4 linked regions of the Homo sapiens genome follow. The protein of the gene in region 1 interacts with the protein of each later gene in a biochemical or structural test. Each region holds a gene or a part of one and is shown on either strand. Other genes may lie near its edges. The genes, in order: EPS8, ITGB5, ITSN2 and ITGB7.

Region 1 (5,796 bases):
TCTTATCCCTTTCAATAAAGGCTAAATTATACATATGTATCAGTCCTTATGAAATGTAAAAGATCTAAACTAATTCACCTTTATCATGCTCATGTTTGTTCCACTTTATCCAAAGGGCAGTGTTATAGAGAGACCGAGAGATAGAAGATGAGAAACTCCCACATCCTTCAGGATCTGGGGAAAATTAGCTTCTAGGAAGCTAAATCTCCTCATCTGTAATAATTCATATAGAGTTGTTGTAAATATCCAGGAAAGCATTTATATGGAAGCATTTAGCAATCGTAAGCGCAGTGTAAATTAGTTCCATTACCATTACCAAATATGACTAGATGGTAGAAGGAAAAGATGATGAAACAAGAGGCGAAAAGAAGAAAAACAACCGAAAAAAGTATTCTAGAGTTTCTCTACCCACTCAGAAATAGAATAATATATAGTTTTTTTAAAATGTGGATCTCTACTTTTTCCCATTGCATTCAACTCGAATCCTCAGCCGATCTAGCACAGATCCTTTTTGCTAATGAGACAGAAACCATTTATTAACAGACAGCAAATACTGTTTATTGCAGACTTTCCAGCTGACTCATGTGAAAAAGGCACTATGAAAATTAATGAATCTAGATAATTTCTCTAAATGATTTATGTTAAAATATACAACATTCTTACATAACATCTGTTTTATATATGTGAAATAATATAACATTTAATGACAAAAATTGTGTTTCCAAAAATAACATTTGTTGAAGGTTAGGTATCTTTCTTTTCTCTATGTGGAATCTTTCACAGGATTAAAATATGTGTAAATTAAGTGCTTCTTATTACCAGAAATACTTGACACAGATAAACACATAAAATGGCCCCACTTCCTTTTAACTACTCATATCAACATTCAGAACTGAGGCTTTCATTAAGCAAAATACTGTAATGCACACCAATGCAGACTACTTCCTTTGCTAGATTTTGAGAAGACATGACCTCTTTCGCATTTGTGCTTTCTCATATATAAGAACACAGTATACATAATAAGCAGAATATAAACTAAATCAAAATACAAGCTATACAAGGAGTTGCAATCAACAGAGCCATGACAAACTCTCTTGAGAATGCTCCATAGATTTATATTTGCATGTCCAAGGTATGGCTGTACTTTACAGTTCATTCAAATGTTTTAATTTTTTTTTAAACTGTTGGCATTAAGAACTTTAAATAAATCTAAATATTCTTCCATTGAGTATGTCAGAGAAGAGACTTAAGTAAGCAGAGGCTAGCCTACAGTGAGCTATGCCCTGAATGACAGACACCATATTCACAGGCAAAATCGAAACTGCTTAGATTTTGAATCATGGACAACATTGTTGCTTTGTTGCAGTGAATAACTCCACCACTATCAAAACAATTCCTGTTTATACCCTGGGATGGGGATAAAATAATTAGTCTAATTAAGGAAACTTCACCTTGGTAAAGTAAGAAAAATATTTTCCAAGGTCAAAAAATTCAGTTTAAATTTTTTCAGTTTTAATAAAAATAATGGGCCTAGAAGCAAATCCTGTGCTCACTCAGGTTTGCATGGGTTTTTTTTTATGGTGATAAATTACATCAAGAAAAATGAATCTGACATTCCCTTCAAGGCTTCTTAAAACAAAGCATGTTGGAATAATGCCAAAAACAATGGAGTTTAAATACAAACAAACAAATTAGTGACTGCTTCCTTCATCAAAAGATTCCACTCCTGAATCACTAGCGGCAGCACTGATTTTTTCCTGTCGTCTTCTCATAATTTCTTGTAACTCGGAGCTGCCACTGCTATCCTGAAAGATAAACAGTTCAGACAAGATAGTTACTGACTTGTGCAGGCTGCAGGTCATATCATGAAATGGCTCAGGATAAAATTCTACTGTGGTTTTCTTCTAGTATCTCTTTAGGAAAGCTAACAGCTCTACTTTTTAAGTGAAGCTTCTGCACTTCACTAATATATCACATTAATAATTTTTCATTTTGTAAAGTCTGTTAAGGCAATTCACTCACCAGGCCTTTCATTTGAACATGATAAAGATAAATCAATAATGTATGTATAGTACTCTAGGTTTGCTGAGAGAAAGAGGAAATGTGTACAATAAGCATAATAACATGGTAAATTATCAAAGGACTCTTTTGGGCTCAAACAAGATACTGATCTGCCTTTAGAAGATTTTAACTCAGGCCAGAGTGGGCTCAGAATTCACCCAGTTTCCCCTCCATATAGTTCTGACCCTCCGACCATGCTGGCTTTTCTCCTTTCCCATCAACAGAAGTCTCTGGCAACACAGGCAAATAATCTAAAAGATTAACTAGATCCAAGGAAAGGGTGAGGTGGTAGAAGGTGGCTGAGGAACATGAAGAACCTCAGGTAGTCAGCCTCTGCCTCAGTTCCCATGCAGAGAATAGGAAGAGAACAAGAAGCAAGAGACCATCCTGAAGTGGGTGGTGACAGCAAATGACAATAATGATAGGCAGGTGTGGGATGAAGGAATTCAGAATTTTAGGAATATGGCATTTTCTAACATACCTTGAAGAAGTAATTATATACTCTCAACAAAATTAAATATAGTGGTAATAAAACTGCTTGAGAAAAATATATAATCCTTATTAATATTCAACATATGGAAAGCAATCAAATCAAACTTTAATATGGAGCCTTCAAGATCAATGTTGTAGGGAAAACCTCCAAGGGAAATATGGTTTCTCTTGATTCAGAATGGCTACGGGGTGATACGCATGAAGTGATTTTACCCTGAATTATTTAACTGTTGAATTTATAGAATATACCTGCTAGAGATGATTATGGATCAATTTCATGCCAAAGCCTACATTCTTTCATTTGAGTCCAAGTATAATTTTCATGAAACTATTAAGAGCTGTGAGATGTAACAGTTGGAAACTACTACCCGTATATAGCACATTTTAAGTCTAAAATAGGATATTGGAAGCTTAAGTATAAAGCAATCTAGAAAACATGACTCTCCTGCTTTCATACAGACCATTGTGATTAAATACTTTTCCAGGCTCTCTATTTTCAGTGATCTCTACCTAATGTATCTTTCCCGATTATTGAGATGTATTACTAGACCTAACACACACAGCCAGGGTTTTACAATCTTATAACCTATACGTTATTAGAATCTCCAAAAAAAAAAAAATATTAAGAATAGGCAAGGATTCTGGCCTCTTAAGGCTCTTACTCACTCAGAAGCTAATTTCCATTGTTATGTCAAAATTAAATTTCCTATAGAATTAGTCAATACATATAAAATGAGAACATTATGCTTTTTGTCAAGTTTCCAAAAGTATGTGCTCAAGCTTCACATCATATGAGCATTTATAACAAATTAACCTTCTGGAAACTGTCATTGATGATCTCAGTGACAAATTTACAAAAGCAGAGTTAAATTTAATTCAGCTCTGTTAAGAAAGGGAAATTGGCCAATATGGACATAAATAGTTGTTTCCAGAGCTTTCAATTTGCAGAAAAACACCACCTTAGGTTGACAAGTCATACCTCCAATGCAGCTTTTTGTACAGTGATTTGGCTATAGACTCTCGCCCCTTCAGGGCAGACTGTCCTCAGTTCATCCTTATTGAGAGAGAAAAGTTGTGCACCATTTAATACTCCAAGACTATTGACAGTCCTAAAAAAAAAAAAAGGAAAAAGAAACTGAGCATTAAAAATATTGCCTACAAACAAAGGAGAAAATTATCTGTTCCTGCTAGTAACTTCTCTTTTCTAAGCGTTCCATACCCTGGAACCCTTATTAAATGCCACTACAGTCTTTATAGTTAGGGCAATGACAAGTTTCTTTCATGATGATGACCCTGAGGCTATACAGATTATTAATTACAAAGTATCAAAAATGAGCCAATTCGGTTTAGGGTCATTGTTTAATACCAATTCTTGGGATTTGGTGTTTTATAGAAGGAATAGATAACTTTCTAGTAACCTGGCAATTGACTAACCATTGTATCTCATTTTTCAATCATGCTGGGTAGGTGAGTTTATAATATGTCAAGGTCCCTTGAATATGTATTATTCTAATAGTTCATTGTGCCAAATACATATGAAATGTTTATAGACTTTTAGATAGATAAATAGAACCTTTACTATGGGTTTATTAAAGGAAAAGTTCTATTAAGATTATAATTGATGCTAGGTAACACTATTTTTTATTTGCCAGAGACACTATATCCTGCAGCAGGAGGAAAGCTTATGCTCTATGTCCTATGTGGTCTAGGAAGTTCAGCTAAGACCATGGTCCTACCTAGGTTACATCACAGTAATCTGATGGAGAAAAGAAGCTACTGGGCCTCAAAGCTGCCAATAGTTTGCTTAAAGAACTAATAATGAACAGATACTACCAATTCGAAAATGGGGTGGCATCAGAATAATTATTTATGCTTATTTTAGTTCTTTTTCAGCTATGAACAGCTATAGTGAGTTCTTGAGTATGGCACAAAGTATGCAGTCTGTGCCCTTATGTTTTATAACAGTTATCTGTGACATCTAACTAAGCAAATTGAAAACAATGCATGTTGTACACACAGAATTGCAAAGTATTCACAGAGAGACTCACACAGGGTTGAATCCCTTTGACTGTAACCACGTCTTCACATCCTCTGGTGTGGAGTCGTAAGTGATATTGATAACTGGCACGTTCTGCCGTGGCACATGGAATTTCTTCTGAGCGGCACTCCGACCAATGGTCAGTCTGTGGATGAGTTCATCTTGCACTTCCTCCATCTGAGATTTCCTTCCTAGACACCAACAGGGAGTAGGTTCTTTTTGAAAATCCCTAATATTACATCACCCTCTCTAGAACCCCAATCTCTATAATCCTTGACCCCAGTAGGACCTACAGTCTAGTGTTCCTACCATCTTTCCTCACTTTTATCCTCGCCTGGTATAAATGCCATGATCAATTATTAAAATAACTCCCTGGCTCTTCTCTAGTCTCTTCATTGTACTCCTTTGGCAAAACCCCAATCCTGGTTAAACCTAACTTTCTGCGTATTCTGTGCCTGCACCTGCACAGCTGAATATAACACAACAATGCTGAATGATCTCATGTTAAATTCATGATTATGAACCTTAACTTGGCTGTTAATGCTTCCTGACAATTATACTACATTTCCTTAGACTGGTGGCTCTCAACTGGGGACAGTTTTGGCCCCAGAGGACATTTGGGAATATCTGGAGACACTTTTGGTCGTCACAATTGAGGGAGAAAAAGGGGAAAGGCTGCTGCTGTCACACAGTGGGTAGAAGCCTGGGATGCACACAACATTCTATAATGTCAGCCTCTCCTACAGCAGAGAATAACCCAGCCTCAAAGGCCAAGAAGTCCTGCCTAAGGTCATGTAACTGCCCACTGTCTTAGACAAGTATTGAATATATTCTACTTTCTCTCTACAAACTTCTAACCCTATTCCCCAATCCTCACCTTGAGCTGATCTCATTTCCTAATTTATGAATAAAATAGTTAGAAGAAAACCTCCGTAAGTTCCTCTAGTAGTTCTTCCTAACAGCACTTTCCCCATATGTTCTGCCTGCCTTCCTATTATGTTATATAAGAGCTGTTTCCCTGCTCCCAAGGCTAACTATCCATGTATGCACTAGGCCTCAAGTTCTCTGCCTATTCAAATACTGAGTCATTTCTCCCTTATTTATCCTGTTATTAATTTTCCTTCTTCACTGAATCAGTTCATCAGCCTGCAAACATGCTATTATTTTATGATTTCTGTTACCTTTAAACAAGTCCTTTTTACCAT
Region 2 (3,959 bases), on another chromosome or scaffold:
ACTGGTTCCGTAACATCCCTCGGCGTCAGACGAAAACACCCTCACTTTCCACGTCAAGTGGAACTAGAACAAATCCTCCTTTGCTATCTGTGGCTCAAGAATGTTGTGCCCAGGCCAGGCGCGGTGGCTGACGTATGTAATCCTAACACTTTGGGAGGCCAAGGTGGGAGGATCGCTTGAGCTTGGGAGTTGTAGACCAACCAGCCTGGGCAACATAGTGAGACCTTGTCTCTGCAAAAAATAAAGTATTATCTGGGTGTGATGGTGCACACCTGTAGTCCCAGCTACTTAGGAGGCTGAGTTGGGAGGATCACGGGAGACCAGGAGATTGAGGCTGCAGAGAACTGAGATTGCACCTCTGCACTCCAGCCTGAGTGACCCAGTGAGATCCTCTCTTAAAAAAAAAAAAAAAGAATGTCGTGCCCTTAGAGAAAATGAGATTCTGAGCCAGTTAATGATTTGTCTCCAGGAAACCCAAAATTAAACATGAGAGAAACCCAAAGTTTCTTCCAAAATTACATTTATTTTTCTCAATTCAGAAAAGTCTCAACACCACAATTTATCTGTTTAATGTTTTCATTTACATTTGGCTTTATCCCAAAAAGGGTTTAACAGTGTCACCAAGTTACCAGGTCTCTGTTTCATCATATTTACACAAGATGAAGGAAACTCAATCTGTTCGTATTTGCCCCAGGTAATAGGTTCTATGTAGTGACAGGCATTTCACTATTTGACTTAGTGTTTGCCAAAATGAAGTAAGGGGAATTGGGTCCAGAGCTGAGGACAGATCCATTTGGAATGAAAGCATAATAACCTTGAAGTTATTCCAGTGACAAAAAATGATCAGTGAAAGATTTTCTAAGAGCAAGCAGGAATGAGGAGGCTGGCCCTCTGGCCAGCATGAGATGGGGTCTTAGGAACAGTTTGTCATTCAGTAACCTCCTAACAAACACTCGGGCAAGCCACTTCCCCTCTCTGAGAATCAGTTTCCTCTTCTGTACATAAGGGGAGAGGGTCAGTCAACCATCTTAGATATGGGAACTTAAGGGGACTTCATGGCCCTGCGGGAAAAAAGCTCAAATGTGTTTTTTTGCATTGGGCCTGCATGGGACGTAAGTGTTTCGGGAGTGAGGGGAGGCCTTGGAAGGGAACTGCTATTGCTAATGATGATTAAGAGATGACTTCGTGTGGGAACCACCACTCAACCCTTGCTTGTCTGTACAATCTATTTCCAGCCTCAGCCCCTCAGAACAAGGGGTGGTTTTTATGGTGTCTAGCCTGGAACTCTCTGTCAGTAAAAGCTGGAAGGGGCCAAAGGTATCTGCTCAGTGTTCCCCCTTGCACAGCCCTCACTGCCCCGAGCACCTCATGCTTACTTGACAAGCTGCAGTCTGGAGTATCAGACCAGCCTGTGTCCCATCCCTGAGGAAGTACACGGCCGCTTCAATCCCCACTGGGGGCACCATTTTAAGTCCGCTCAGAAAGAAAGAAACACACAGAGAGTATCAGACAAACACAAATTCTTTTGGTTTTAATCTTTACTTCCAATCCCAAACAATCTTGTTTCTTTTCATTATAAAAGTACTAAACAAACACGGACAGGAGAGGAAACTGACATTTGCAAACGATGTACCTTCAACAGGCATCTCAACAGCCCCATCACCAACACCTGTGTGCAAGGCATAGCCATCACGCAGAAAAGTCTCAGGACTCAGAACTACACCATAAATGCAGGATCTTTTTATTTCATATAAAAATGATCAATGTGAAAAAAGCCAAACTGTATGCTGGTTTTACAGACTCCGACCCTTCCTGACAGTCTTCTTGTCTGGCCAGGCTGGGGGCCCAGCATTCCTGGAAGGGAGAGACAGCCCAGCATCTCAGTATTTCATTGGGACAACAAGCTGGATGTGGCAGGGAAAGCTGAGAGCGCCAAGGTCCCCTTGCTTTATCCCAAGCTCGGAGGGACGCAGCCTGGCATGGCTCTGGCCTAGCAGCCAGGTGACATGGCCAGGCACCTTCCTGTACAGGCACTGTGGGCTCCTGGCCCAGGCTCACTAGAAGGTCTTCTCTGTGGTGCCTACCTAGGGAGCTGTGATCAAGCCGAGCAGCCGTGCAAGGCGTTTCAGTCTGACCTTTTCATCAGATCCCCGCTCCAGCCCCTCGGAGAAGGAAACATCAGTCCACAGTGCCATTGTAGGATTTGTTGAACTTGTTGAAGGTGAAGTCCACAGTGTGCGTGGAGATAGGCTTTCTGTATAATGGATTTGAAGCCTACAGAACACGGCGGGGAAGAGGATGAGGACACATGTTAGCTCACACACTCAAACCGACAGACGCAGGCCCTAGGATCCCTTCCCAGGTCAGCCCCCTGCGACAGCAGCAGGCAGAGCACTCAGGAGGAGACGGCCGTGGGCTCTAGGACAGCTCTGTGTTCCCCAGGAAAGCCATCGCCTTCTCTAAGCTTTCACTATCCACCTCTGGAAGGAGGAGTTGGGTCAGAAGGTCTCTGAAGTCCCTTCCAGCTTTAACAGAAACCAAGCCCAGGTTCAGCAGAAACTGACTGCGCTCAGTCCTCTGGGCATTTGCAGTCTGCCTGGGGTGACCAGACTGCAGGTGTGAGTGTTGTAATGGACCATAAGAATCTGAGCTTTCCTGTTGGTCTGTGCTCTCTCTGAGACTGGTCAGACTCTTCCTGAGGCACGCCCAGCGCCTCTGCCCCCATGACCTTCCTGACCTGGGTCTGGAACAGGGATCTGTGCAGCTCACTCTGCACTGGGGCTGTGCAATTCTCTCTCTCCAGAACTGGGCACAGCGTTTCTGGTGTTGATTCTTTTGTTTTTAATGCCAAAGACATTAGTGAGCCTCTATTGCTAACATACCGCTGAACTCAACCACGCCTCTGAGCTTGAAGTCTCCTCTGCTTCCCATTTCCCACGTGCTTACCATTTCATAGCGGGCCCTGGATCGCTCGCTCTGAAACTTTGCAAACTCCCTCCGGTCGTGGATGGTGACAAGCAGCTTCCAGATAGCCAGGAGTGCAAGCCCAACAAGGAGGATGCTACCGACCACAGCCAGGAGGATGGTCATGGCGTTGGGGGTGTTTCCACACTCTGGGGGGACCAGAAGCATGGTAAGCAAAGCCACTAGCATCACCATGCCCCTCTCACGCAACTGCAGGCATTTCTGAGATGAAAGTTGCACCCCTTCCAAAGGCCTTCTCCTCGGCTCTCCCTTAGATCCTCAGGAGGGTTTCCCCAATGTACAAAAAATGAAAGATTCAAAAGGGACAGTGACTGTTCTAAAGTCACACAGCAAGTGTGGCAAAGTCTAGATGAGGGCCCTGGGGCAGGGCTGCCTTTCCCCTCATGGGCAGCACCCACATCCCGCCTGGCCCAGTCTCCATTGCAGGATGCTGGACCCGCTCAGCTTTCGTGTACATGGTTTCAGGAGCAGACTGGGCAGGCAGGAGGTACCATGAAGCCACATGAAGCCACTTCCACAAGGTCTGGGCTGGGGGCCAACATTTGTAAGCCTTTAGCGTGGTGTCCCTTGGAGTAAATGTGCTTGTTTTCAAAGAACCTCAGACACAGCATTGGAAACAAAGCCTCATTCTTACAGGCGTGCATCCTAGGCTGGTACCACACTTCTCTCTGCCTCTGGCCTCAGGAAGGCACATTATGTGGTTGGGCTCAATTTGGAAAAATAGTTTGCAGTGCTGTCGATTGAAGAGAGCAAATCTTTTTCTGCTCCACCCCTGCCTCCCTACCCCCAAGAAGAATGTAAGGGGTGATATCAGATATTCCAGTTACTCCAAGGCAAAGGCTATTGGTCCCTGGGTCCAAGCAGAGGCAGAATGTTGGTATTTGGATTAAAGCTTGACCTCTTCAGTGGTGCTGGGAGCTGAGCATGGGAGCAGCAGGAATGTTGAACCCAGTGCTCCGTTGTCCTTGGAATCC
Region 3 (7,041 bases), on another chromosome or scaffold:
CAAAGCAAAAAGACTGATTAATTGCCAGTCCATGCAGTAAGAGAAATTGGGTAAGAGAACTCTAGAGATGCAGAATGCTTCCACAGCCCCATTCTGCAAATAGTAATTATTGAACCAGACCCTACTGCACAAGTAAGGAAGAGAATTACCAGGACCCCAAGGGACATATTCAAGTTCTCATCATAATTTTAAAAAGAATAACTTTAAGTCAAAATTTCCTAAAATTAGTAGCAATAACCTTATTTTAATGTATGATATGGTCTGAATGTTGGTATGTCCCCAACATTCATATGTTGGAACCTAACTCCCAATGCAGTACTATTAAGAAGTAGGGCTTTAGGAGGCTCCACACTCATGAATGAGATGACTGTCCTTATAAAGGAAGTTGAAGGGACTGCCTTACCCTTTCTGCATGTGAAGACGCAGCAAGAAGGCACTAGTTTTAAAGGAGACAGCAAGCCCTCATCGGACACTGAATCTGCTAACACCTTGATCTTGGACTTCTCAGTCTCTAGAACTATGAGTAATAAATTTCTGTTGTTTATAAATTACCCAGTCTAAGGTCGTTTGTTATAGCAAGTAATGAATTAAGAATGCATAAACATTGTTAAAGAGTTAAAACTCAAAGTGATAAATGTCCACTTACGTATATATATTAAGCAAAACTTAACCAGACGTCTAGCAGAGTTTTAGTAGGTCTATGGACTTCCTGATATTGTATACAGGATTGCGTGTATTTAGATCACAAGCCTATCAAAGACTCAAGGTTATTGACCCCCAAAACAAAACTCTATTAGAAGAACTGTTTCGTTTTGTTTTGTTTTGAGATGGAATCTCGCTCTATCATCCATGCTGGAGTACAGTGGTGCGATCTGGGTTCACTGCAACCTCTGCCTCCCGGAATCAAGCGATTCTCCTGCCTCAGCCTCCCGAGTTGCTGGGATTACAGGCATGCGCCACCATACCCAGCTAATTTTTTTGTATTTTTAGTAGAGACGGGGTTTTGCCCTGCTGACTGGGCTGGTCTCGAACTCCTGACCTCAGGGGATCCACCCGCCTCAGCCTCCCAAAGTGCTAGCATTACAGCCGTGAGCCACCGTGCCCAGCCCAGAAGAACTATTAATTGTACATGTTTAAGAACAATTTAGCAGTGAAGGACTTACCTGAAGTTCCTGTTGAAGTTGCTTGATTTCCATAATTTCCAAGTCACACTGCTTATCCAGAACTTCCAGCTCAGTCTTTTGAGTTTGCTTTTTGAGTCGGACATCCTGAAGTCTGCCTGAGATCTGCTGATGTTTGCCATTCTATAGGAAGATCATATAAATATATAGTAACATAAAATGCTAATAGAAAATGTTTCTACAAGGAGAATAATATTTTTAGTTAAATTTTAAAATCTCAGTTATCATTCATATTCATCCTGAAACAAATGCCTAAAACCAAGTGGAATGTGTTTCAGAGTTGTGTCTGTTAACTCGAGTTATTAGTGGGAAACACATCATTCTCAGAGTGCAAGAGCCCATATGTTAGTATGGGAAAGCAGAAACATAACACATTGAATTTTTTTCTGAATTCAGCATTAGACAATATTAATTAACAATATTAATATCAGAGACACTCTCAAAGAATGATGAAGAGGAATAAATGTTTGCATGTGATGCTCGGCATTACCTTCTCTGAACTTCTATTTCTACCCTAAATATGGCCATCTAATTTCCTCTAATTAAAACAGTGCCCAGGAGGAACGTTTTGGCAACAGTTCTGTTCTATACTAATATTCTTCTCCTTTTTTCCTCTTCTTCTGTGAAGAAATCAAACAAATAGCAGAGATTCTCAATGGGACCTAAGAAGAAGGGTGACATGGGGGGTTATGGGCTGAACTGTGTCCCCCAAAATTCATATGTTAAAGTCCCAAGCCCCAGTACCTCAGAATGTGACAATATTTGGAGACAGGGCCTTTAAAGAGGTGATTAAGGTTAAACAAAGTCATACAGGTGGACCCTAATCCAATCTAACTGGTGTCCTTATTAGAGGTGGAAATCTGAACACAAAAGGCACCAGAGATAAAATACACTCAGAGAAAACACCATATAAGGACACAATGAAAGATGGCCACCTGCAAGCCACCAAAAGAGGCCTCACAAGAAACTAAGCCTAACTAACCTTGGTCTTAGATCTTAGGAGCTGTGAAAAAATTAATTTCTGTTGTTTAAGCCACCTAGCCTATCGTATTTTGTTACAGCAGCCCTACCAAACTAATACAGTGGAGTGAGGGGAAATGACATCCTGGGTTAAAACTTACTGATGATGAAAAGTTTTACTGAAGACTGTTTCATATTTGAAATACATACACTGAAAGGAACATGTGTATCTCTGCTGGAGCTCACATTCTTATCCTCAACATGGGATACGTATAGGCTCTGGACCTTTCCAGACTCTGCACATTCACCTGTGTTACTGTGCTTCATGTGTTGCACCAGTTCTTGAGGGAAAAACAATCAATCTTAAGGTCTCTTCCCATTATATATAGTCAAGATGATATATATATATAAAAATAGTGCAAGAGAGTTAAAAGTTTTTTACAACTGTTTTGTAGTACTCTGGCATGATTAATACTTGTGGTATGTATGTCTATCCATTTGAAGGAATAAAATAATATATTTCTGACTAAAGATATTGTGATGATTAAAAAAATAATTTTTAATGTAATTCAAGTCATCAACCAAATAAAATGTTAGACTATGATCACACAAGATCTAAATCTGGCTCTACTACATGACTAGGTATGCATTTTTGTAAAACCCTACTATATGATCAGGGTAGGCTCATGGGATTCTAGGGTTGTGGCAGAATAGTGCCAGATCTTTTATACCTTCTCACCACACATTTCAAACAAAGTCTTTTAACAACTTGACCCTCTAACATCTGATTGGTAAAAACTGCTTAGTGGCCAGTATTAGCTAAGAACTACAATCCTGCAGAACTGGAACTGTAAGAGATCATTTAGGTCAGCAGTTTCAAATCAGTTGTCTTTTTAATAGTAGAATCTTTTTTTTTCCAAGCAAATCTTGAGTGAAACCCCAAGAAACATAAAGCACATAAATGTCAAGCTTCTCTGTTGTGAAGCGTGGGAAGAATTAGGGAGAGAAAATCACTGTTCTGCTGCCCGAGCTTCCCCTCTCCTGCCTCTGCTTAGTCCTCCTCAGACCATCTTACAGAGACCAATCTGAAAACTGAAAATCACTCAACTAACACAACTCTTTATTTCAGACAAGGGAAAAGTGAGGCACAGAGAAGGGAAATGTCTTGCCCAGGAGTACATGGTTCATCAGTGTCTGAACTGATGCTACAACATAATTCTCAGCATTTTGAGTCATTATCCTTTTCTCAGTAAACCATATTGTACAGTCTGTTTATATGAAAATGTGACTAATGACATTAAGACATAACTAATTCACGAGAGATTTTAAAACACAATTACATTTTTCTTTTTTTTTTTTTTGAGATGGCGTCTCACTCTGTTACCTAGGCTGGAGTGCAGTGGTGCGATCTTGGCTCACTGCAACCTCCACCTCCTGGGTTCAAGTGATTCTCCTGCCTCAGCCTCCCAAGTAGCTAGGATTACAGGCACCCACCACCACCCACCACGGCCAGCTAATTTTTGTTTGTTTGTTTGAGACGGAGTCTCACTCTGTTGCCCAGGCTCGAGTGCAGTGGCGCGATCTCAGCTCACTGCAACCTCCGCCTCCCAGGTTCAAGCAATTCTTCTGCCTCAGTGTCCCAAGTAGCTGGGACTACAGGCGCACACCACCACTCCTGGCTAATTTTTGTATTTTTAGTAGAGATGGGGTTTCACTATATTGGCCAGGCTGGTCTTGAACTCCTGACCTCGTGATCCACCCACCTCAGCCTCCCAAAGCGTTGGGATTACAGTGAGCCACCATGCCCAGCCCACAGCTGGCTAATTTTTTTTTTTAGTAGAGATGGGGTTTCACCATGTTGGCCAGGCTGGTTTCAAACTCCTGCCCCAGTTGATCTGCCTGCCTTGGCCTCCCAAAGTGCTAGGATAACAGGTGTGAGCCACCACGCCTGGCCCACAATTACATTTTTCAACAGGTAGCTCCATCATCATTCAGATAAATTTCACTTAAACTTCAGCCATACCAGTGCTTCCAACTCAAGATGAAGATTCTTCTTTTTAGAGTTTAACCTGACAATTTCTTCTTGTTCTCTATTCTTTTGATTGAGAAGCTCCTGTCGCCGAATTCTCTCCCATTCTAAGCGACGTTGTCGTTCAAGTTCCTGTTTTGCTGCCTGAAAAAAAAAAGGAATTATACTTAATTTTTAAATCAAAAATTTTGCACGATTCAAAAACTGGGAAGACAACAATAAAAGTCAGGCAGAGTTTAGCACTTAGTGGCTTTAGTGCCTAAGGGTAGCTAGGCAAATCTAGTTTTATTAATGGGCTTAAAGACTTCCAAGAAAGTGGCTTCATCTATCATATTTTCTCATTTCTTCACGAGATCTTTTTTTTTTTTTTTTTTTTCCAGACAGCATCTTGCTCTGTCACCCAGGCTGGAGTGCAGTGGCACCACCTTGGCTCACTGCAACCTCCACCACCTGGGCTCAAGCGATTCTCCTGCCTCAGCCCCACCAAGTAGCTGGGATTACAGGCACACACCACCACACACCTGGCTAATTTTTGTACTTTTTGTAGAGAGAGGGTTTCACCATGTTGCCCAGGTTGGAAGACCATCCTTTTGTTACAGTCATTTTTCTCTTAATAAGTTACAGAATGACTTCATAAATATAAATGTTAACAGGAATAATTTTCCCTCTATTCTGGTATCTGGGGGAAAAATTCTATTTATATTATTTCAGTGTGCAATAACTTCCTGTGCTCCATCCCTGGCCCTTTAAAACACAGCCAGTCCTCCTAAGGACCCTTCTTTCCCAGCAACACTATCCCAAAGGCCTGTGCAAGCCCATCCTCTTGATTCCTCTCTAGAGAGACTTTCAATGCCCAGCTCTCATCTTTCTGTCTCTCCAATTCCTTGGACTCTTAATCTGGATCTTAAACTTGCTTTCGTCTAATGACTTGCTCAGTTGCCTAACTAACCTTAGCTCCTCACTCAACTTAGCTCTGCAGTCGATCCTCCTTTGATTGAGATATCACCTGCAGAGGATGCTTTCTCTACCACGTACCAGTTCTGAAAACTCCTTATAAGCAAGAAGCCTCTTTCCCTCCTCAAGGGAAGGAATGATCAGATTTGTATAGGGTAAGAATGAAATGATGCAGAGCAAAAGGCAAAACAAAAATTCAAAAATAAGCATTTTTTAATCAAATGAAATATAGTCACTTATTAAATGTAATGATTTTCTTAAGAAGTAAAAAACTTAAAAATAACCTCTCGTCTTTCTATGTCTTTTCTCCTTTCTTCCTCTCGTTGTCTCTCCAATTCCCGTTGCTTCTCTAAGCGTTTTTCTAATTCAAGTTGTTTCTTCCATTCTTGTTCTTGTAATTCTCTCTGTTTTCGTTCCCACTCTTCCTTTTCTTTCTGGGCTTTACGTTCTGCCTCCCTTTGTTGCTGCTCCATCAAGGCTTGGCGTCGCTTTTCCAGCTCCATGTTCCCTCGCTCATAGTTGGCTTTCCGTTTGTCCTCAAAAGTAACTGAACAAGGTATGCCTATCAGCATCCACACACATTAACAGCCTACAGAACCTGTAATCTAGTTTCTATATACTTATGCCTTGTGATCATTTGAGTGCTATCAGTATTTGAATACTTCTCCTAAGGATAATTTTAACTCAAATCTAAGTGGAAAAATATCTACTTTCTTCAAGGATATTCAATTTTAGAAAAACAAATTTTTAAGTTTGAATCCAATCAAGAGAGAAATAATTTTTATAAACTTGCCAATAAAAATACTTTTTCGGTTGGGTGTGGTGGCTCATGCCTGTAATCCCAACACTTTGGGAGGCCAAGGTGGGCGGATCACCTGAGGTCAGCAGTTCAAGACCGGCCTGGCCAACACGGTGAAACCCCATCTCTACTAAAAATACCAAAAATTAGCCAGGCATAGTGGCAGGCACCTGTAATCCCAGCTACTCAGGAGGCTGAGACAGGAGAATCGCTTGAACCCAGGAGGCGGAAGTTGCAGTGAGCCGGGATTGTGCTGTTGCACTCCAGCCTGGGCAACAAGGAAAAAAAAAAAAAACTTTTTCAACTTTTTTCTCTTCTTCAAGGACAATCAAAGCTGTGTGGTTATACATTTGTTTTGATGTCATTAACATCCTAATATATTAAAACAGCTACAAATGTATTCTTTCAACCAATATTTAAATGTTTTTAAAGGTAAAGATTTCATTACAAAGTTTCCTCTAATAACTCAGCCTAAATTAGGAGAAATACTTTAACTCAGATGTCTATAATCCTGTCAAATACATCTAACTGTCTCTTCTTCCTTCACACTCTTCTCATTTTGACCATCTTAATTTTATCAATACCAAAATACATCCCATCTATCAAATAGTTTTTTCTCATATAGCACATCAAATATTAAAAATATAAAAATTCTAAATATTCCATTACATTTAAAGGTAGAATTTAAAAGAACTCAGTATAAATATACAACTTTGACACTCAGTGATACCTGGTAATTTCTTCTGAGGCTCCTCTTCTTGCATTTTCTGATATGAAGGCAGAGTTCCATTAATGGAATCAATTTGCTTTCCTCCTCTAAAAAAATCAAACAACAAAGTTAGCATCATGTAGTCTGGACATTTTCAGACTAGATTACACAGACTACCAGTGATTATGGCAATTTGATATTGGGAATACAGTATTAAAGATATTTAAAACAGTTTGGTATGTCGTTACAAAATACAGTAGTATATGGATATTCAAGACAGAGAAATCTGGATTCAAATCACAGTTCAGCTAATTTTGGTTCTTGGGCAAGTTTTTCTTTATCTCTTTAGTCATTAGCCTCCTTATGTATAACATAATGAAAACACATCCACTTCTTTTTTTTTTTTTTT
Region 4 (6,893 bases), about 38 Mb from region 1:
ATCTACTAAAAATACAAAAATTATCCAGGCATGGTGGTGGTCTCCTGTAACCCTAGCTACTTGGGAGGCTGAGGCAGGAAAATCGCTTGAACCCAGGAGGCGGAGGTTGCAGTGAGCCGAGATTGTGCCATTTCATTCCAGCCTGGGCAACAAGAGCAAAACTCGGTCTCAAAAAAAAAAAAAAAATGAAGTACTGATACATACATGCTACAACATGGATGAACCTTGAAAACATGCTCAGTGAACAAAACCATTCATGAAAGGTCACATATTGTATGATTCCACATATGGAACATATCCAAACTAGAAAAATCCACAGAGACAGAAGGTAGATTAGTGGTTACCAGAGCTTGGGAGAAGGGGAAGTGGGGAATGACTGCTTAATGGGCAGTTTCATTTTAGGGTGATGAATAAGTTCTGGAATTAGTGAATGTACTTAATGCCACTGAATTGTACACTTAAAAGGGGTAAAAATGATAAATGTTTGTGTATCTTACCATTTTAAAAATCAAAAAGTTAAATAAGATGGTGAGAAATCTCCTACTCCATATGCCATACCCAGTTCCCACACCTACCCTAAATAAATATCATTTACTACTATCTTTGTTTCTTTTTTCTTTACCTTTTTTTTTTTTTTTTTTTTGGCAGAGTCCCACTCTGTCGACCAGGCTGGAATGCAGTGGCGTGATGTACAACCTCTGCCTCCTGGGTTCAAGTGAGTCGTGTGCCTCATCCTCCTGAGTAGCTGGGATTACAGGTGTGAGCCACCACACCCAGCTAATTTTTGTGTTTTTAGTAGAGACAGAGTTTCACTATGTTGGCCAGGCTGGTCTCGAACCCCTGACTTCAAGTGATCCACCCACCTCGGCCTCCCAAAGTGCTGGAATTACAGGCATGAGCCACTGTGCCTGGCCTTAAATTGTTTCTAGTTCCCTATGACAAATAATGCTGAAATGAAAAGTAATGTATGTATTTATTTATTTATTCATTTGAGAGATAGGGTCTTGCTCTGTCACCCGGCTGTAGTGTACTGGTGCAATCATGGCTCACTGCTGCCTTGACCTTGCCGGCTCAATTGATCCTTCCACCTCAGCCTCCCGAGTAGCTGGTACTACAGGCGCATGCTACCATGTCTGGCTAATTATTTTTGTATTATTTTGCAGAGATGGGGCTTCCCCATGTTGCCCAGGCTGGTCTAGAACTCCTGAGCTCAAGCGACCCACCTGCCTCGGCCTCCCAAATTGCCGTGATTACAGGCGTGAGCCATCACCCCCAGCCAAATGTCATGTATTTATCATTTCACACGTCTGCAACTGAATCTGTAGGATAAATCCCTAGCAGAGGACGTGCAGGATAACTAGATAGGTATCATTTGTAATACTGGTGTGTATTTCATCTACATTCTCATGCTAAGAAATATATATATATAGGTGGGTATTGCCAACATAAACTCTTCAGGACTTGTACTGGTCCACATTCCCATCAGCAATGTATGAGAAAGGCCAACTAACTCCTTGTCATAAACCATTTGCATCTTCTTCAGCCTGGGCCCAGAGTCAGGTCCAGATACTCTGCACAGAGTGTGGGAAAGGGGTGGGGTGTTGAGTCCTTGAATGTCCTGGTCCTGCTCCCCACCACCTGTGACCTCAGGCGCCATATATAACGGAGCCTCCACCCCTCGGGGAGAGGCCAGTCCCAGCTCAGCCTCAGCGTAACCTCAGCCCTGCTTGCTCTGCATGCCTGTGGTCAGGGAGGCTGGAGATGCTGCAACCCAAAGCCGGGTTTTGACTCATCTCTCACAAGTGGAGCCCCGGCTGCCGCATAGGTTTTTCAGAGACCTTAGGCCCACTCATCTCCCCTTAAAGGGGGCCCTGGGACTTCCTGGACAGCCCTTTCCTACCTTTCTTTCCAATTATCCTCTCTTCTCCCCTCCTTGAGAATACATGTTCTGCCACCTATTTCTCTGTCTGCTTCTCTGTCTCTCTCTGGCTCCTTTCATTTCAAAACTTCTATTGCATCTCTCTGCTGCTTTTCTCTGCTCCACTTCTTCATAGGGCTATTTTACTTCCTTTTCCCCTCTGTTCCTAACTATAGAATGGCTGAATCTACTACTCCATCCCACTCTTTTTACAAATGGAAACCTAAATTCCATGAGGCCAGGGTCACCCAGTGAACTAGGGGCAGGGCAGGACAGGGCAGGGCCAGGCCTCTGCTGTGCTTTCTCCTTTCCTCCCTCCAACCCAGGCACTATCTCCATCAAAAGTTGTGTTCTCTCCCCACTAGCCCTGGTGGGCTCTGCCTAATCCCATTTCTCTTTCCTTAGGGGTATTCTGCAGTCTTCCCTTCTCTCTCTGGGACCAAGTGGTTATTTCCATTTTTCTGGACTCCATTCTGACTCCAGTACACACCCTGTGACCCCCCTCAGCAGCTGAGAAACAGAGCCTCTTCCAAACCCATCCCTACCTTCCAAATCAAGCAGAACCCTCTGCTGCCCACTGGGAGTCACAAGGAGGGGACGGAACTGAGCTGCTGGGCCTCAGTGTCCCAGGACAGTGGAGTCTGTGACCAAGGTGCCGATTAGGAAGAAGTCTGAGCTGAAGGCAGAGCATTAGGGATAGCAGCTGGGGGTGATGTTGGAAGAACCCTCCCTCAGTATAATCGGTATACCTGCCCTACTTCGGTATAGTCCTTGGCACATGGCAGGCACTCAGATGACAGCACTCATATACATCCCTGCCTCCAGACCCACTCATGGGAAACTGATGCAGGAGAGATTGGGCTTTTGGAGAGGTGGAGGTGGGGGTACTGTGAAACTGGAGGAGGGAACCAGGTCAGGGGATCTTAGGAATGCAGAAAGGAGTTCAGAGCCTTTCTCAAGTCTGGACAGGACCCTCGGTATCCAGGTCAGAGCCCTCTTCCCAAGAGGTTGGGACCAGGTGGGCCAGAGCTTGTAAGGAGAGGAGGCAGAAGGGCTGGTGCCCTGGTACTCACAGGTGCGTGCAGAGCAGTCCTTCCTCTGGCGGCAGCAGCAGCCTTTGTGTACTGATCTGGGAGACGGCAGAGGAGGAAGTGACACTCCCCAGGGTGGGGAAGATTTGGGGTTGGTGGGGGTGACTGATCTAGAAGGTGGTGCAGATAGGGGTGGGGCTGAGCCAAGGGAGTGGACAATACAGAGATCTGGAAGAAAGAAGCCCATTTATTGAACCCCTGTCATGTGTTGAACGTAACATATTACAATTAACCCTCACAACAATCTCATAAGATAGGGGTTAATATTCCCCCAAGCCCCAATTTTACAGATGCAGAGATTGAGGCTTGGAAGCAGGAAATAAAGAATTTTGCCCAAGGTCCCACAGCTAGTAAGTAGCTAGTCTAGGATTTAAAAAAAAAAAAGAAAAAAGATTTTTATTTTAAATTTTTATTATTTTATTTTTTTTATTTTAATTTAATTTAACTTTTGAGACAGGGTCTTGCTCTGTTTCCCAGGCACAATCTCAGCTCACTGTCCCATGGCACAATCTCAGCTCACTGCAAACTCCGCCTCCCAGGTTCAAGCGATTCTCCTGCCTCAGCCTCCCGAATAGCTGGGATTACAGGGGTGCACTACCATGCCCAGCAACGTTTTATATTCTTAATAGAGACGGGGTTTCACCATGTTGGCCAGGCTGGTCTCAAACTCTTGACCTCAATTGATCTGCCCACCTCGGCCTCCCAAAGTGCTGGGATTACAGGTGTGGGCCACCATGCCCAGCCTGTTTTTTATTTTTGAGACAGGGTCTTGCTGTGTTGCCCAGGCTGGTCTGTAACTCCTGGACTCAAGCAATCCTCCCACTTTGGCCTCCTGAGTAGCTGGGATTACAGGCACACTCGGCTGGTCTGGGATTTAAATCCAGGTCTGCCTGCCTCCAAAATTCATGATCTCTCCATTTACTTATATAGGAAGGAACATGATAGGAGGGAATAGGGGCAGTAAGTACTGTAGAGAGGCCAGAAATTACAGACTTGTTCATTTTGAAAACCCAGGATACATTATATAAGTGTGCTTGACTACATAGGCTCTGGAGCCAAGTTGCTAGAGTTCAAATCCTGGCTCTACTACTTACTAGTAGTAAGGAGCTTAGCTGAGTTACTTAAACCTGCCTGCAGCTGTTTTCTCATCTGTCCAGCAAGACTCACAGGATTGTCGTGAGAATTAAAAGAGATAATTCATATCAATTGCCTACAAGACTACCTGGCACATACTAAGTAAGGGCTTGATAAGAGAATTAGTAGGGATGAGAAGTAGCAGAGGTGAGAAGTGAAGAGGCTTTGAGAAATTCAAGGTCCACACAACTGGAAACTTGGAAGAGAGAGGCATAGGGCCAGGCTCAGAGCATGTGATTGGGGAACCAGGAGCCAACACAGTAGTGGATCCTGGGAAAGGGGTGGAGGAGGTGAACTGGGAGAAGCAGAGAGTGCAGGAACAACAGCTGAAGCCAAGGCAAGGATGAAGCCCGTAGGGAGAGCAGGAAAATATTAATGGGATTTGCTCCTGGCCCATACAGATCACTAAGAGCTTTGAGAGGGAACTAGACATGAGGTCTGTGTTCACAGGTCGATCTCCCCTACCAGAAGGAGCACTCCTTGTAGGCAGGGACTGGCTCTACAAGGCTTCCCTGCTGGAGCCACCACACCTAGCCAAGTGCCCATCTTATAGTAGGTGCTCAATAAATGTCAGATGGATTGCAGAGGTGTAGCTGCTAGGAGGGGACAATTGGAGAGGAGGGGCTCTTTCTCTGGGTGGGCTTGGCTGGCCTCAGGCTATGGGATAGCCAGGACCTATACCCTTCCCCCACAACCAGGGGTTACCACGGCAATGACCCTCCTTCCCCACAGGCCCTGTGGTTTCCTCTAGAGCTTCTTTCACTTTCTTCTTCTGCTTTCCGCCCTCCACTCTTCTCTCCCCTACTCCCACATCCTCAACTTTTTTGTCATAACCACAGGTCACCAATGAAGAGAGCCAGGAACAAGGTAGGCAAGGCACTGTCCCAGGGAAGGTAGGACACGGAGGAGGGGCTTGAGGGGAGTCACAGAGGGCGAAGGGAAGAGTACAGGGTGCAGCAGTAGAGGCCAAAGGCACTGCAAAGGCGTGTTGCAGAGGGAAGGCGTGTGGGAGCAAGGACAGATATTCGGAAAGAAGGTAACAGTGCAGGTGGCAGTGAGTGGAGGTCATGGGGTGAAGAGTGGGAACAGAGAGGGTGGGGGGAGTAAGGTATAAGGTGATAGCAGGGTGGTTGGGGACAGAAGGCCAGAGGGCTCCCTGGGTGAGGGGCTGGTGTAAAACAGTAACACTGTAGCTTAGATGCGGGCTTCTTCTCTTCTGGGGCCAGGAGCCCTCATGAGAACTAAATGAAACTTCAGGGCAGGCATGGTGGCTCACGCCTGTAATCTCAACACTTTGGGAGGCTGAAGTAGGTGGATCACTTGAGGTCAGGAGTTCGAGACCAGCCTAGCCAACATGGTGAAACCCCATCTCTACTAAAAATACAAAAATTAGCTGAGCATGGTGGTGCGCCCCTGTAATCCCAGCTACTTGGGAGGCTGAGGCAGGAGAATCGCTTGAACCCGGGAGGCAGAAGTTGCAGTGAGCCAAGATCACACCACTGCACTCCAGACTGGGCAACAGGAGTGAAATTCCGTCTCAAGAAAAAAAATGAAAAACAAAAAGATAAATAAAACTTCAATGGACTCCTTCCCCAGAGAAAAGCAGATATGCACATATGCATAACTGGAGGTGGAGACAGGCTTACAGACCTCTGAAGTCCATTCATGCCCTCCCAGAGATCCACAGGATCCAACATAAGAACCCACACCAAGCTAGACGCAGTGGCTCACGCCTGTAATCCCAGCACTTTGGGAGTCCAAGGCAGGCGGATCACCTGAGGTCAGGAGTTCGAGACCAGCCTGGCCAACATGGCGAAACCTGTCTCTACTAAAAATAAAAAAAATTAGCTGGGCGTGGTGGTGCACCCCTGTAATTGCAGCTACTCGGGAGGCTGAGGCAAGAGAATTGCTTGAACCTGGGAAGTGGAGGTTACAGTAAGCCGAGATCACACCACTGCACTCCAGCATGGGCGACAGAGTGAGATTCTGAACCCACACCTGGTGGTTGTGGGAAACCCGGTCACTCAGGGTGAGTCCCCATGGGCTCCCTTTCCCCCATCCTGTCCCCACCACAATCCAGGCACACTTCATCCTGTTTTCTTCTACCAAGAAAGCTGCAAAGTCCAATCAATTACAAGCTTTCCCTCCTCACTCAGCTCCCTCACCAGGTCAGCTGGTCATTTCCCTACCACCTCCTAAAGGGAGCCACATCTCATGAGTTTCCATCACTTTATTTTGCAAAAATAGAAAACTCAGCAATATGCGATACAGCGGGGTAGAGGGGAGATGTAAACAGAGGGGAGGGGACAGCACCCTGACCCCCCAAGAGAACACAGGGAGCCAATGGGAATCTTATTTGGCAGCTAAATACAAACTGGGGATTGGAGGAAGAAAGGAGGGGTCACAGGGGCCCTGGGCTCCCCCACCCAAGACCCCTGGAGGAAGGGGTCAATTCCACGGTGTAAACAAAAGCTAATAAATAAATAGAGGCTTCCTCTGGGTCAGGGCGGGATCAGCTAAGCAGCATCCCCCCTCCCTGGGCCAAGCTGCTCTGGGGAGTAAAGGGTGGAAGGCACTAGGGAGAGAGGGATCCCCTGGCCCCTCTGTAGTGTAGGAGGGTCCCTGCCCCAATGGCTGAGATGGAGGGCAGGAGGAGCCCAAGGCACATGACAGGGCTGGGGGAGGGACTTATAACGGAGGGCACAGGGTGAACTCTGCACCCGAGCCAAGAGGTGCAGAATGGACCTGCA

What was found.
Region 2: the proteins of EPS8 (region 1) and ITGB5 form a complex in vitro, tested with the Homo sapiens proteins (one study listed by IntAct).
Region 3: the proteins of EPS8 (region 1) and ITSN2 form a complex in vitro, tested with the Homo sapiens proteins (one study listed by BioGRID).
Region 4: the proteins of EPS8 (region 1) and ITGB7 form a complex in vitro, tested with the Homo sapiens proteins (one study listed by IntAct).

What each region holds. Positions count from the first base shown.
Region 1 is NC_000012.12:15,619,626-15,625,421, forward strand, and holds the end of EPS8 (epidermal growth factor receptor kinase substrate 8), read right to left. Parts: intron 4,783-5,796; coding exon 4,602-4,782; intron 3,663-4,601; coding exon 3,533-3,662; intron 1,806-3,532; coding exon 1,692-1,805; 3' UTR 509-1,691; downstream 1-508. UniProt on the Homo sapiens protein: Signaling adapter that controls various cellular protrusions by regulating actin cytoskeleton dynamics and architecture. Depending on its association with other signal transducers, can regulate different processes.
Region 2 is NC_000003.12:124,761,445-124,765,403, forward strand, and holds the end of ITGB5 (integrin beta-5 isoform a precursor), read right to left. Parts: intron 3,114-3,959; coding exon 2,947-3,113; intron 2,275-2,946; coding exon 2,179-2,274; 3' UTR 504-2,178; downstream 1-503.
Region 3 is NC_000002.12:24,294,501-24,301,541, forward strand, and holds part of ITSN2 (intersectin-2), read right to left. Parts: intron 6,740-7,041; coding exon 6,654-6,739; intron 5,672-6,653; coding exon 5,409-5,671; intron 4,315-5,408; coding exon 4,165-4,314; intron 1,305-4,164; coding exon 1,164-1,304; intron 1-1,163.
Region 4 is NC_000012.12:53,204,211-53,211,103, forward strand, and holds the start of ITGB7 (integrin beta-7 isoform a precursor), read right to left. Parts: upstream 3,042-6,893; 5' UTR 2,992-3,041; intron 2,595-2,991; exon of another isoform or gene 2,464-2,594; intron 1-2,463. UniProt on the Homo sapiens protein: Integrin ITGA4/ITGB7 (alpha-4/beta-7) (Peyer patches-specific homing receptor LPAM-1) is an adhesion molecule that mediates lymphocyte migration and homing to gut-associated lymphoid tissue (GALT).